Linked DNA regions of Homo sapiens. The protein of the gene in region 1 purifies or fractionates together with the protein of each later gene. This does not show direct contact. Each region holds a gene or a part of one and is shown on either strand. Other genes may lie near its edges.

Region 1 (3,751 bases):
TAGGCAGGAGAAGGAAATAAAGGGTATTCAATTGGGAAAAGAGGAAGTCAAATTGTCCCTGTTTGCAGACGACATGATTGTATATCTAGAAAACCCCATTGTCTCAAGCCCAAAATCTCCTTAAGCTGACAGGCAACTTCAGCAAAGTCTCAGGATACAAAATCAATGTACAAAAATCACAAGCATTCTTATACACCAACAACAGACAAACAGAGAGCCAAATCATGAGTGAACTCCCATTCACAATTGCTTCAAAGAGAATAAAATACCTAGGAATCCAACTTACAAGGGATGTGAAGGACCTCTTCAAGGAGAACTACAAACCACTGCTCAAGGAAATAAAAGAGGACACAAACAAATGGAAGAACATTCCATGCTCATGGGTAGGAAGAATCAATATCGTGAAAATGGCCATACTGCCCAAGGTAATTTACAGATTCAATGCCATCCCCATCAAGCTACCAATGACTTTCTTCACAGAATTGGAAAAAACTACTTTAAAGTTCATATGGAACCAAAAAAGAGCCCGCATCACCAAGTCAATCCTAAGCCAAAAGAACAAAGCTGGAGGCATCACACTACCTGACTTCAAACTATACTACAAGGCTACAGTAACCAAAACAGCATGGTACTGGTACCAAAACAGAGATATAGATCAATGGAACAGACCAGAGCCCTCAGAAATAACGCCACATATCTACAGCTATCTGATCTTTGACAAACCTGACAAAAACAAGCAATGGGGAAAGGATTCCCTATTTAATAAATGGTGGTGGGAAAACTGGCTAGCCATACGTAGAAAGCTGAAACTGGATCCCTTCCTTACACCTTATACAAAAATCAATTCAAGATGGATTAAAGACTTAAACGTTAGACCTAAAACCATAAAAACCCTAGAAGAAAACCTAGGCATTACCATTCAGGACATAGGCATGGGCAAGGACTTCATGTCTAAAACACCAAAAGCAATGGCAACAAAAGACAAAATTGACAAATGGGATCTAATTAAACTAAAGAGCTTCTGCACAGCAAAAGAAACTACCATCAGAATGAACAGGCAACCTACAAAATGGGAGAAAATTTTTGCAACCTACTCATCTGACAAAGGGCTAATATCCAGAATCTACAATGAACTCAAACAAATTTACAAGAAAAAAACAAACAACCCCATCAAAAAGTGGGCAAAGGACATGAACAGACACTTCTCAAAAGAAGACATTTATGCAGCCAAAAAACACATGAAAAAATGCTCATCATCACTGGCCATCAGAGAAATGCAAATCAAAACCACAATGAGATACCATCTCACACCAGTTAGAATGGCAATCATTAAAAAGTCAGGAAACAACAGGTGCTGGAGAGGATGTGGAGAAATAGGAACACTTTTACACTGTTGGTGGGACTGTAAACTAGTTCAACCATTGTGGAAGTCAGTGTGGCAATTCCTCAGGGATCTAGAACTGGAAATACCATTTGACCCAGCCATCCCATTACTGGGTATATACCCAAAGGACTATAAATCATGCTGCTATAAAGACACATGCACACGTATGTTTATTGCGGCACTATTCACAATAGCAAAGACTTGGAACCAACCCAAATGTCCAACAATGATAGACTGGATTAAGAAAATGTGGCACATATACACCATGGAATACTATGCAGCCATAAAAAATGATGAGTTCATGTCCTTTGTAGGGACATGGATGAAATTGGAAATCATCATTCTCAGTAAACTATCGCAAGAACAAAAAGCAAACACCGCATATTCTCACTCATAGGTGGGAATTGAACAATGAGATTACATGGACACAGGAAGGGGAATATCACACTCTGGGGACTGTTGTGGGGTGGGGGGAGGGGGGAGGGATAGCATTGGGAGATATACCTAATGCTAGATGACGAGTTAGTGGGTGCAGTGCACCAGCATGGCACATGTATACATATGTAACTAACCTGCACAATGTGCACATGTACCCTAAAACTTAAAGTATAATAAAAAAAAATTAAAAAAAAATAAAATAAAAATGTAAATATGAAAAAAAAAAGACATTTCCTGCAGAAACTCAGCCAGAAAGAATTATGGCGAAGTATAATTACAAATTAATAAAGTCAATGATTCATGCTATAGTTACTCAGCTTTGGAGAGAAAGCATACATTCTTGTTTAAGCAGGGAAATGTGTCTAAATGACTGATAAATAGCTTAAGACAGTATATATGGATTTTCTATCTAGTGTAAATAAGCTTCTTAAAAACAAGTTCCAAGATTGTTTATCCTTTCCAGCCTGGTTTGAAGGACACATGTTGAGTGTATTTCATCCCAAAGCTCCTGTGATTGAGGCGGCTTTGAAATTGTTAGAAGTAGAATTCCTGGGCATCATTTTGGGAGCAGGGCTGGACAGCAGTAAACCTGGAGCATGTCCAGGTTCCAAACCTGACTACCATTTCTAAGCTGTGTGATCTTAGGCAAACAGGTAATTCTCTAAGCCCCGTGTGGCTTCATATGTAAAACAGAAATAATAATTTTGTTACACAACTGCTTTAAGGGTTAAATGAGATAATAGTGACTGGCACACTGTAAGCATTAACTAAATGTTAATCATTATTACTACAGGGTCTCCTCCCAACATCCCTCTTACAGGAACAAAGAAATCCTTTACTTTCAACAGCAATACCAAAGAGAATGGTAGCTCATTTTTTCTAAACCTTACTATGATGCAGAAGGTATTTATTTCCATCATCTTTTTAATCTAAGAACCCAGCAGAGAAAAGCCTCTGAGTGCTGCCCTTGATAATTCATGAGAGGAGGGTGGGAGGAACTTACTGCCAGCCTCCATGAAAGCCTCAGGAAGGTATGTGAAGCCACTTTCTTGTTCCAGAGGGTTCCCACAGCTAGCATGCTCACCAGGGCGCTGGAGGTTGATTATTGTTTTTATGCCATGGCTTAAAGGAAAAAGGGCAGTCAGTCATATTGGGAGCTAGCATTTAAAAAAAATTAACCATTTTTGGTATTAATCAACATTATTAATTACTCTCAAAAATCTTAATTTCTCATTTGAAATACACTCTTCACTGCCTATTGTTAAAATGAAAGCACTCTTTCACTTGAAACAAAGGCAATGAAAGAAAAAAACACATGAGTTTGCTCACTCGTGTGTGAACAATACAGCATTTACCTGAGGAACTGATCAATGATGTGGTACTTCTCCAGGAGCTCAGAGGATGGGCGGGCCATGGCCAGTATATTATCAGTGACCCTGCAAATAGGTGGAGGGACTGGTGAGATGTGCTGAAACCTAGGAAGTTCCAGTCCAAAGAGATGTTCCAGTCCTGAGAGATGATTTTTTCTATGATTTCAACAACTCTGTTAGAATATTCTTTTTTGTGTATAAATTTTATTTGAACAGATAATACAGTTTCATGGTTCAATAAAATCAAAACAATACAAAAAGGTATGCACTAAAATGTTTGCTCTCAACCGTTTTCATCCACTCCATTCAGTTTGTTCCCCATATGTAATCATTTGTATTAACTTCATGTTTACCATCTTAGTGTTTATTTTTGCAAATATAAGCAAATATGAATATTTATTCTTATTTATCTGCTTTTTCTTGTACAAAAGGTAGTCTAGTAAAGGCACTGTTAGATACTTTGCTTTTTTTCTCTTTAGGTTAATTTTTAAAATTTCAATAGTTTTTGGGGTACAGATTATTTCAGGTTACATAGATGAGTTATTTAGTGGTGAATTTT
Region 2 (3,751 bases), on another chromosome or scaffold:
GTGATCTCCGCTCACTGCAAGCTCCGCCTCCTGGGTTCATGCCATTCTCCTGCCTCAGCCTCCCCAGTAGCTGGGACTACAGGTGCCCGCGACCACACCCAGCTGATTTTTTGTATTTTTTTTAGTAGAGACGGGGTTTCACCCTGTTAGCCAGGATGGTCTCGATCTCCTGACCTCGTGATCCGCCCGCCTCGGCCTCCCAAAGTGCTGGGATTACAGGCGTGAACCACTGCGCCCGGCGAGTCTGTGAATCTTAAGGCATACAACTGACTTCCTAAAGGCAGAGGCTTCCTATGAAGCTCTCATAAGTCAAACTGCAAAATATTACTAGACTGTTTGCTTGTTTGATGGCCTTCCCCAGAGGATGCTTTCCTGAAGGTTCTCTTCAATGGCACAGATATAAATATTAAGTAAATGAAAATTCTACAATGGAATATAGAAATCAGACCGGAAATAATTCAAATAAGCAGACACCATGTCCCATTAAGACCAAAAAAAAAATATAAATGAATAAATACCAAATGCCCATTATCTGTACACAGAAGAAATCAATAAATATGACTGACAAGTTTTGCATTCACCAACACCGTATTTCATTGATTCTAAGTACATTTCCCCACATCTTAGTATCTCTGAAATTAGATGTAGATTTTATATATACATATAAAAGACATTATAGGAGATTATATATAAAAGACACACCTAATTTCAAAGATTATATATATACATATATAATTATTATTATTTTTTCTTTTTTCTGAGACAAGGTCTCACTCTATTGCCCAGGCTGGAGTGCAGTGGTGCAATCATAGCTCATTGCAGCCTCAACCTCCCTGGCTCAAGCGATGCCCCCACCTCAGCCTCCTGAGTAGCTGGGACTACAGGTGTGTACTACCATACCTGGCAAACGTCCCGAATTTCTTTCTTTTTTTTTTTTTTTTGGTAGAGACAAGATCTCACTATGTTGCCCAGGCTGGTCTCAAATTGCTGGGCTCAAGGGATCCTGCCATCTTGGCCTCCTGAAGTGCTGAGACTACAGGCGTGAGCCACCGAGCCAGACATTATCTTACATTCAATGAAACAGTAACTTTCTGGTGCTGATGCTACAGTTAACTTAATTTTTGTTACCTTTCTGCGACTTAAAATGTTTCTTTCAAAGTACCAATGTAAACTCCCTTGGAAAGGCTATCCTACCAGATTAACCAGATATCTATGTTACTTACATAACTCCCCAGACTCAAGCTTGACTTAAGCAAACAAACCTTTAGTTTTGTTTAGTCTATCTCTTTAGAAACAGGTTAATGTCTAATTCAAAGCAACAGATCATGGATTAAGAAACTGATTAAAGCAAAATCAACAAATAAAACCCCAATACACTTAAAACTACAAATTCTGAGAAGAAAGGAACCAGCTGTTATCAAGCTATAAAGCTATATAAAACCAGGTTCAATATAAGACCCTCCTCCCCCAACCCCTCCCCACGGTTTCTCCATAGGAGCAATTAGTGTAATATATAAAGGAGCAAGACCCATAGCTTCCCTGCAGGTAAGCAGGTTGCAGTCATGTGGAAAGTGACATCACAGGCAAAGGTGCTGCAGCACTTGCTTGACGTGCAGGTGTTTCACTTACTTACTGTCTCTGTGGTATCTACTCTTCAAATAGTTTGAGAATTGGTTGGAAAGTGATGCTATTCTTGAATCCTTGTTACTAATCTTCTATCATTTTGACACAGACTTCCTTTAAAGGCATTCCATTTTCATTTGCCTTCAAAAGCATTTTCACACGCCTCTTGGTAGTAAGATTTTCACCGAGCTTTAGAAGAACAGCTCCATCCCAAGGCTGGACGGCCGCATGCCACAGTGGGGCTTCATCAGTACTGTGCTGGCTGCAAATGGTCGCTGAAGCAGTACAGCGCTCCACGGCTCTGCGGCCAGTCGGCGTGGCTCCAAACCCTGGCCCTGCCATACACTCGCTTTGTGACCCAGGTTAATTGCTCCCACGCCTCGGATTCTGCATCTGAGACTGGGAAGAACAGTATTTCCTTCCTTCTTCGGTGGTGTGAAGATTCACTGACATAGGAAAAGCACTGCGAGCAATCTCTAGCACAGAATGACCACTCAGCAACTGTTACCTATCATGACCTTCGTGCTGGGTCCTCTACAAGGGCTGGGGTGGGAAGGGGGACAGCCAGCCTTCAAGCTTGAGGAGCTCAGTCTACCAGAGAGAGAAGCAAAGGATGAAATACCATGTGACATTGCAAAACACATCACATGCTGAATGAAGTACGTTCCAGGAGAGGGAGCAGGGGCTGGGTGAAGGTGATTCCATAACATGCAGAAAAAATCTGCACAACAGTTAACAATTTCCAGAAAGGAGCCACCGTTTAGAACCGCAACATCGTGGAATTAGAAGCTAACAAACAACTTTTCTACTTGCTTCCTGCTGGAAGCCCCCTGGTTTTACTATTTTAACTCTTGGTCAACTCAGCATATAAACTCACCTAGTCCCACCTTCCAGCAAAGGGAGGAGATGCAAGTCACCACTGACTGCTGCTTATACACCTGCTCATCAGCAGGACACTTAATAACTTCCTTGTGAGCTCAGCTCTACTCCTACCTGCAGGGGGATGGGAAGTCTGATGACCCAGTGGAATCACAACTCTTAGCAAAATGACCTGACCCATAGCTAAACCCAATTCTTTTAAAAAAAAAAGGGGGGTGGGGTGCGCATCAAATTTTACATAGGCCAGCACTTTCACCATAGGTTGATTCTGATTCCCCAGCCCAAAACTATTAGTTTTAAAAACAAAACAGAAATCAAAACAAAAACCAAAGGCTTTTCTATGTCACTCACTTCATGACCTCCAAAGTCAGGAGTGCCTACTCCTAGCCCTGCACCACTTCCTGTGCACTGGGCATCACCCCACTGAAGTCAGGAGAGGACCCAGGCCTTAATCTCTAAGGCTCCTTCTCCTTACCCATTGCAGAGAGGGCAGAAAGACGGCCAGAGTGCAGGGCTGTAGTAAAGCTCTACAGAGCTGAACTTGGCCCAGAACAAAACCTTCAAGAACAAAATGCCTCACAAGCCACAAATCTAAACAAACAAAATCTGCTATACCTTAAGTTCTACAGCCTGAGCAGCAGTGCACGATAAAAACCCCTGTGAACTGCCCATCTCTCTTTTTTTTTTTGAGACAAAGTCTTGCTCTGTCGCCCAGGCTGGAGTGCAGTGGCACGATCTCGGCTCACTGCAAGCTCTGCCTCCCGGGTTCATGCCATTCTCCTGCCTCAGCCTCCCAAGTAGCTGGGACTGCAGGCGCCCGCCATCACACCCGGCTAATTTTTGTATTTTTAGTAGAGACGGGGTTTCACCGTGTTAGCCAGGATGGTCTCGATCTCCTGACCTTGTGATCTGCCTGCCTCGGCCTCCCAAAGTGCTGGGATTACAAGCGTGAGCCACTGCGCCCGGCCATCTCTCTCCTTTTTTTTTTTTTTTTGAGACGGAGTCTCGCTCTGACGCCCAGGCTGGAGTGCAATGGCACCATCTCGCCTCACTGCAACCTCCACCTCCCAGGTTTAAGCAATCCTCCTGTCTCAGTCTCCTGAGGAGCTGGAATTACAGGCCGGCCCTGCCACGCCTGGCTAATTTTTGTATTTTTAGTAGAGATGGGGTTTCGCCATATTGGCCAGGCTAGTCTCAAACTCCTGACCTCAAGTGATCCACCCGCCTCAGCCTCCCAGAGTGCTGGGGT
Region 3 (3,751 bases), on another chromosome or scaffold:
TCACTCTCTGCTATAGCTCTTAGAAAATCCAAATTCTGTACCTTAGCTTACAAGGCTTTTTATGACCCGCCTCTGTAGGATTATCATATGCCCAGTGGTACTGCATGAGAAGAGGTGACAGTAGGCAGGGAACAGACTGCAAAAGGCCTTGATAACCTCTTCCATTCACATTGGTCATCTTTCTGTTTTTTGAACTAACCAAGCTCATTATTCCCTTAGGACCTTTGCCCTAGGTCTTCCCTCTAATGAAAAGCTCTTTCAAGCTTTCTGTGGCTGGCTCCTTGTCATTCAGGGATCAACTTCAATGCATCTCCTCAGGGAGGTTTTCCCCAACCACTCAACTTAAAATAGCCTCACAGTCATCCCTTACTACATCATCCTACTCCTTTTTTCTATAGAGTACTCATCACCATCTACTTATTTTCTTGATTGATTGTTGTCTTACTCCATTAGAATGTAAATGCCACTAGAGTGAGGAACCTTGTCTGCCTTGTTTCTTCTGTGTCCTCAATGCTAGAATATACCAATAATAATGTATTGAAAAAATGAGTTTCAGAGGCTTGGAAGCATGAAACAGGCTGGGTTCAAAACTGCCGGAGTGTGGCTGGGTGTGGTGGCTCACACCTGTAATCCTTGCCTTGGGAGGCCAAAGCAGCAGGAGGATTGCTTGAGGCCAGGAGTTCAAGATCAGCCTGGGCAACATAGTGAGACCCCAACACTTAAAAAAAAATAGCTGGGCATGATGTCATGTGTCTGAGTCCTAGCTATTCGGGACGCTGAGGCAGAAGGACGAGGAGTCTGAGGCCGCACTGAGCCATGATTGTGCCACTGCACTTCAGCCTGGGCAACAGAGCAAGACCCTGTCTCTTAAAAAAAAAAAAAAAAAAGAACTGCTGGAGTGTGAAGTGTTGAGGCTGGGTAGGCAGAGTGGTCATCAAGGGCCAGGCAGAGTTCAAATCAAGAGACCACTCATAAGCAATTCTCAGGAGCATGGCCTCATCCTGTAGTAATGATAGCTATTATCCAGTGGTACTGCACGAGAGGGGGTTACAGTAGGCAGGGGACAGATCATGAAATGCATTGGCAAGTGAGAAACAGTATCTTTTCAATGAGTTTCTGAAATACCTTCTAGGAAAGCTGAATACTGTCTACCTGTGTGTATCAAACAATTTTTAAAATATATTATTAGACACACTTCTTTTCTTTAACTCATTATGCTTCTGTTTCACTCTTGGTTAGTTCTATATGTGGGTTTTATGCTTTAAAATCTGTAGCTCATGGCATGTGTAGAATCTACCTGGACTACATGCAAACTCAGTAAGGCAGAGGTTCAGAGAGCCAGCCTGTTTACACTTTTTACTAGGCCATGCCATATTCAGTTACTGCTCTTAATCCAGACCATCCACCCCATTTGGCTTCTTTTATTTCTAAAGCTGTAAGCAAGGTGTCCTACCATCTCTGTACTTTACCTTTTTTTTTTGAGACAAGAGCCTCACTCTGTCACCCAGGCTCAAGTACAGTGGCACAATCTCGGCTCACTGCAACCTCTGCCTCCCGGGTTCAAGTGATTCTCATGCCTCAGCCTCCTGAGTAAGCTGGGTTTACAGGCGTGTGCCACCATGTCTGGCTAATTTTTGTATTTTTTGTAGAGACAGGGTTCCACCATGTTGGCCAGGCTGGTCTCGAGCTCCTGACCTCAAGTGATCTGCCCACCTCGGCCTCCCGACGGCTGGGATTACAGGTGTGAGCCACCGTGCCTGGCCAGTCTCTGTAGTTTTCACTTGATTGTTCTGTCAGAAACTCCTTTCTGCCCTATGGCTAATGGAAAGTTGCTGAATGTGTTCTGAAAAAAGCAATTTTGCATTCAGCATTTTATAGGTTGGATAAAAGGATGGGATGGAGATGGTGGATAAGGGTTGCTTGCACCTCTGGGAATGGTGGAAAGATACTGAAAAGGCTGTGGACTCAGTGACCTGACAAGCTGTTATCCTGTATTTGTGGTGCCTAACATTGGTCATAGTTTTGTACTTACTCTTGAGGAAATATACATGATCCTGTCTGAATTTGGCTATGTATCTTTTAAACCTAGTGATTCAACTCACAGTAATATTAATATTGTGTCAAGTCTTTTACACTGTGTCATTTGTAGACACCATCTGGGAATTGCCATCTGGGACACGAGATCTTGGCTTTTCTACAGAAGTCGTGTCTTTGGGTTGGCCGCACCATATGTTATCACTGTGTGAGCTGAAAGTAACCATTTGGTATGATGCAGCTAACATTCTGGTTACGTGTACCACCTCCCTTCAGTCACTTTAAAAGGTGATTATCTGTTTCTAACCTGATTCAATAAGTTTTCTTCTCTGGTTTTCCTTTTTAATCCATTCAGCCTCCTTTGGAAAATCTGGCAACTGTGGAAGAGACTGTTGTTCGTGACAAGGCTGTGGAGTCCCTGAGACAGATCTCCCAGGAGCATACTCCTGTTGCTCTGGAAGCTTATTTTGTACCTCTGGTGAAACGCTTAGCAAGTGGGGATTGGTTCACCTCTCGCACATCTGCATGTGGTTTGTTCAGCGTTTGCTATCCCAGGGCATCAAATGCTGTTAAAGCAGAAATCAGACAGTAAGCCATGGTATTTTTTTGCCTTGTTAAAGCAGAAATCAGGTAGTAAGCTATGAGTTATTTGGGATTACTGGGGACTTGTAGCTGACAATTTACATAGTACCTTGTTACCAATGAGTGGCTGATACTAGGATAGTAGGATTTATGACATCTTTCTTTTTTTTTTTTAAGAGATAAGGTCTTGCTCTGTTGTCTAGGCTGGAGTGCGGTGGCACAATCATAGCTCACTGCAACCTTGAACTCTTGTGCTTAAGTGATCCTCCAGCCTCAGCCTCCAAGTAGCTAGGACTACCGACATACACTACTGCGCCTGGCTAATTTTTAAAAAAAATTTCTGGCTGGATGCAGTGGCTCATGCTTGTAATCCCAGCACTTTGAGAGGCTGAGGTGGGAGGATTGCTTGAACTCAGGAGTTCAAGACCAGCTTGAGCAACATAGTGAGACCTTGTCTCTACTAAAAAGAAAAAAATTAGCTGGGCATGGTGGGACCCGCCTGTATTTCTAGCTACTCAGAAGGCTGAGGTGGGAGTTCACTTGAGCCCCCGACAAACAACAACAAAAATATTTTTGGCATATAGATAGGGTCTTGCTATGTTGCCCAGTCTGCTTTCAATTCCTGGCCTCAAGCAGTCCTCCTACCTGGGCCTCCCAAAGTGCTTTGATTACAGGTGTGAGGCACCATGCCTGGCCTATGATGTCATTTTTTATTATCCAGTTGAATATGTTTTATTTTTGTTACTTCTATAAGTAGAAGCTTAGTCACTGATTATTGTAAGATAAAACCTCTAAAAGTCTGTCTGTGTGTATGGGGGGCAGGTTTATTCAGTGTTATTTGATGGGAAATACCTTCATTGTTTTATGTTGCAGGCAATTCCGTTCCTTGTGCTCAGATGACACACCAATGGTACGACGTGCTGCTGCTTCCAAATTGGGTGAATTTGCAAAAGTTTTGGAATTAGACAGTGTGAAAAGTGAAATTGTTCCACTGTTCACTAGTCTAGCTTCAGATGAACAGGTAAACTAACTCTTAGTATTTAAGGGACACAGATATGCTCCTTTCCTCTAAATTTTCAGAATTTCTTTGGGGAGTTTTAGTTTTCTTGTTAGGATTCTTTTTACAGAATTAGTG

The links.
Region 2: the proteins of PTPDC1 (region 1) and PPP2R2D purify together in Homo sapiens (affinity purification with mass spectrometry; 6 studies listed by BioGRID and IntAct, with this or other methods). This does not show direct contact.
Region 3: the proteins of PTPDC1 (region 1) and PPP2R1B purify together in Homo sapiens (affinity purification with mass spectrometry; 4 studies listed by BioGRID and IntAct, with this or other methods). This does not show direct contact.

The regions. Positions count from the first base shown.
Region 1 is NC_000009.12:94,087,338-94,091,088, reverse strand, and holds part of PTPDC1 (protein tyrosine phosphatase domain-containing protein 1), read right to left. Parts: intron 3,259-3,751; coding exon 3,178-3,258; intron 2,945-3,177; coding exon 2,826-2,944; intron 1-2,825. UniProt on the Homo sapiens protein: May play roles in cilia formation and/or maintenance.
Region 2 is NC_000010.11:131,903,949-131,907,699, reverse strand, and holds part of PPP2R2D (serine/threonine-protein phosphatase 2A 55 kDa regulatory subunit B delta isoform), read right to left. Parts: intron 1-3,751. UniProt on the Homo sapiens protein: Substrate-recognition subunit of protein phosphatase 2A (PP2A) that plays a key role in cell cycle by controlling mitosis entry and exit. Involved in chromosome clustering during late mitosis by mediating dephosphorylation of MKI67.
Region 3 is NC_000011.10:111,759,690-111,763,440, reverse strand, and holds part of PPP2R1B (serine/threonine-protein phosphatase 2A 65 kDa regulatory subunit A beta isoform), read left to right. Parts: intron 1-2,389; coding exon 2,390-2,622; intron 2,623-3,489; coding exon 3,490-3,637; intron 3,638-3,751. UniProt on the Homo sapiens protein: The PR65 subunit of protein phosphatase 2A serves as a scaffolding molecule to coordinate the assembly of the catalytic subunit and a variable regulatory B subunit.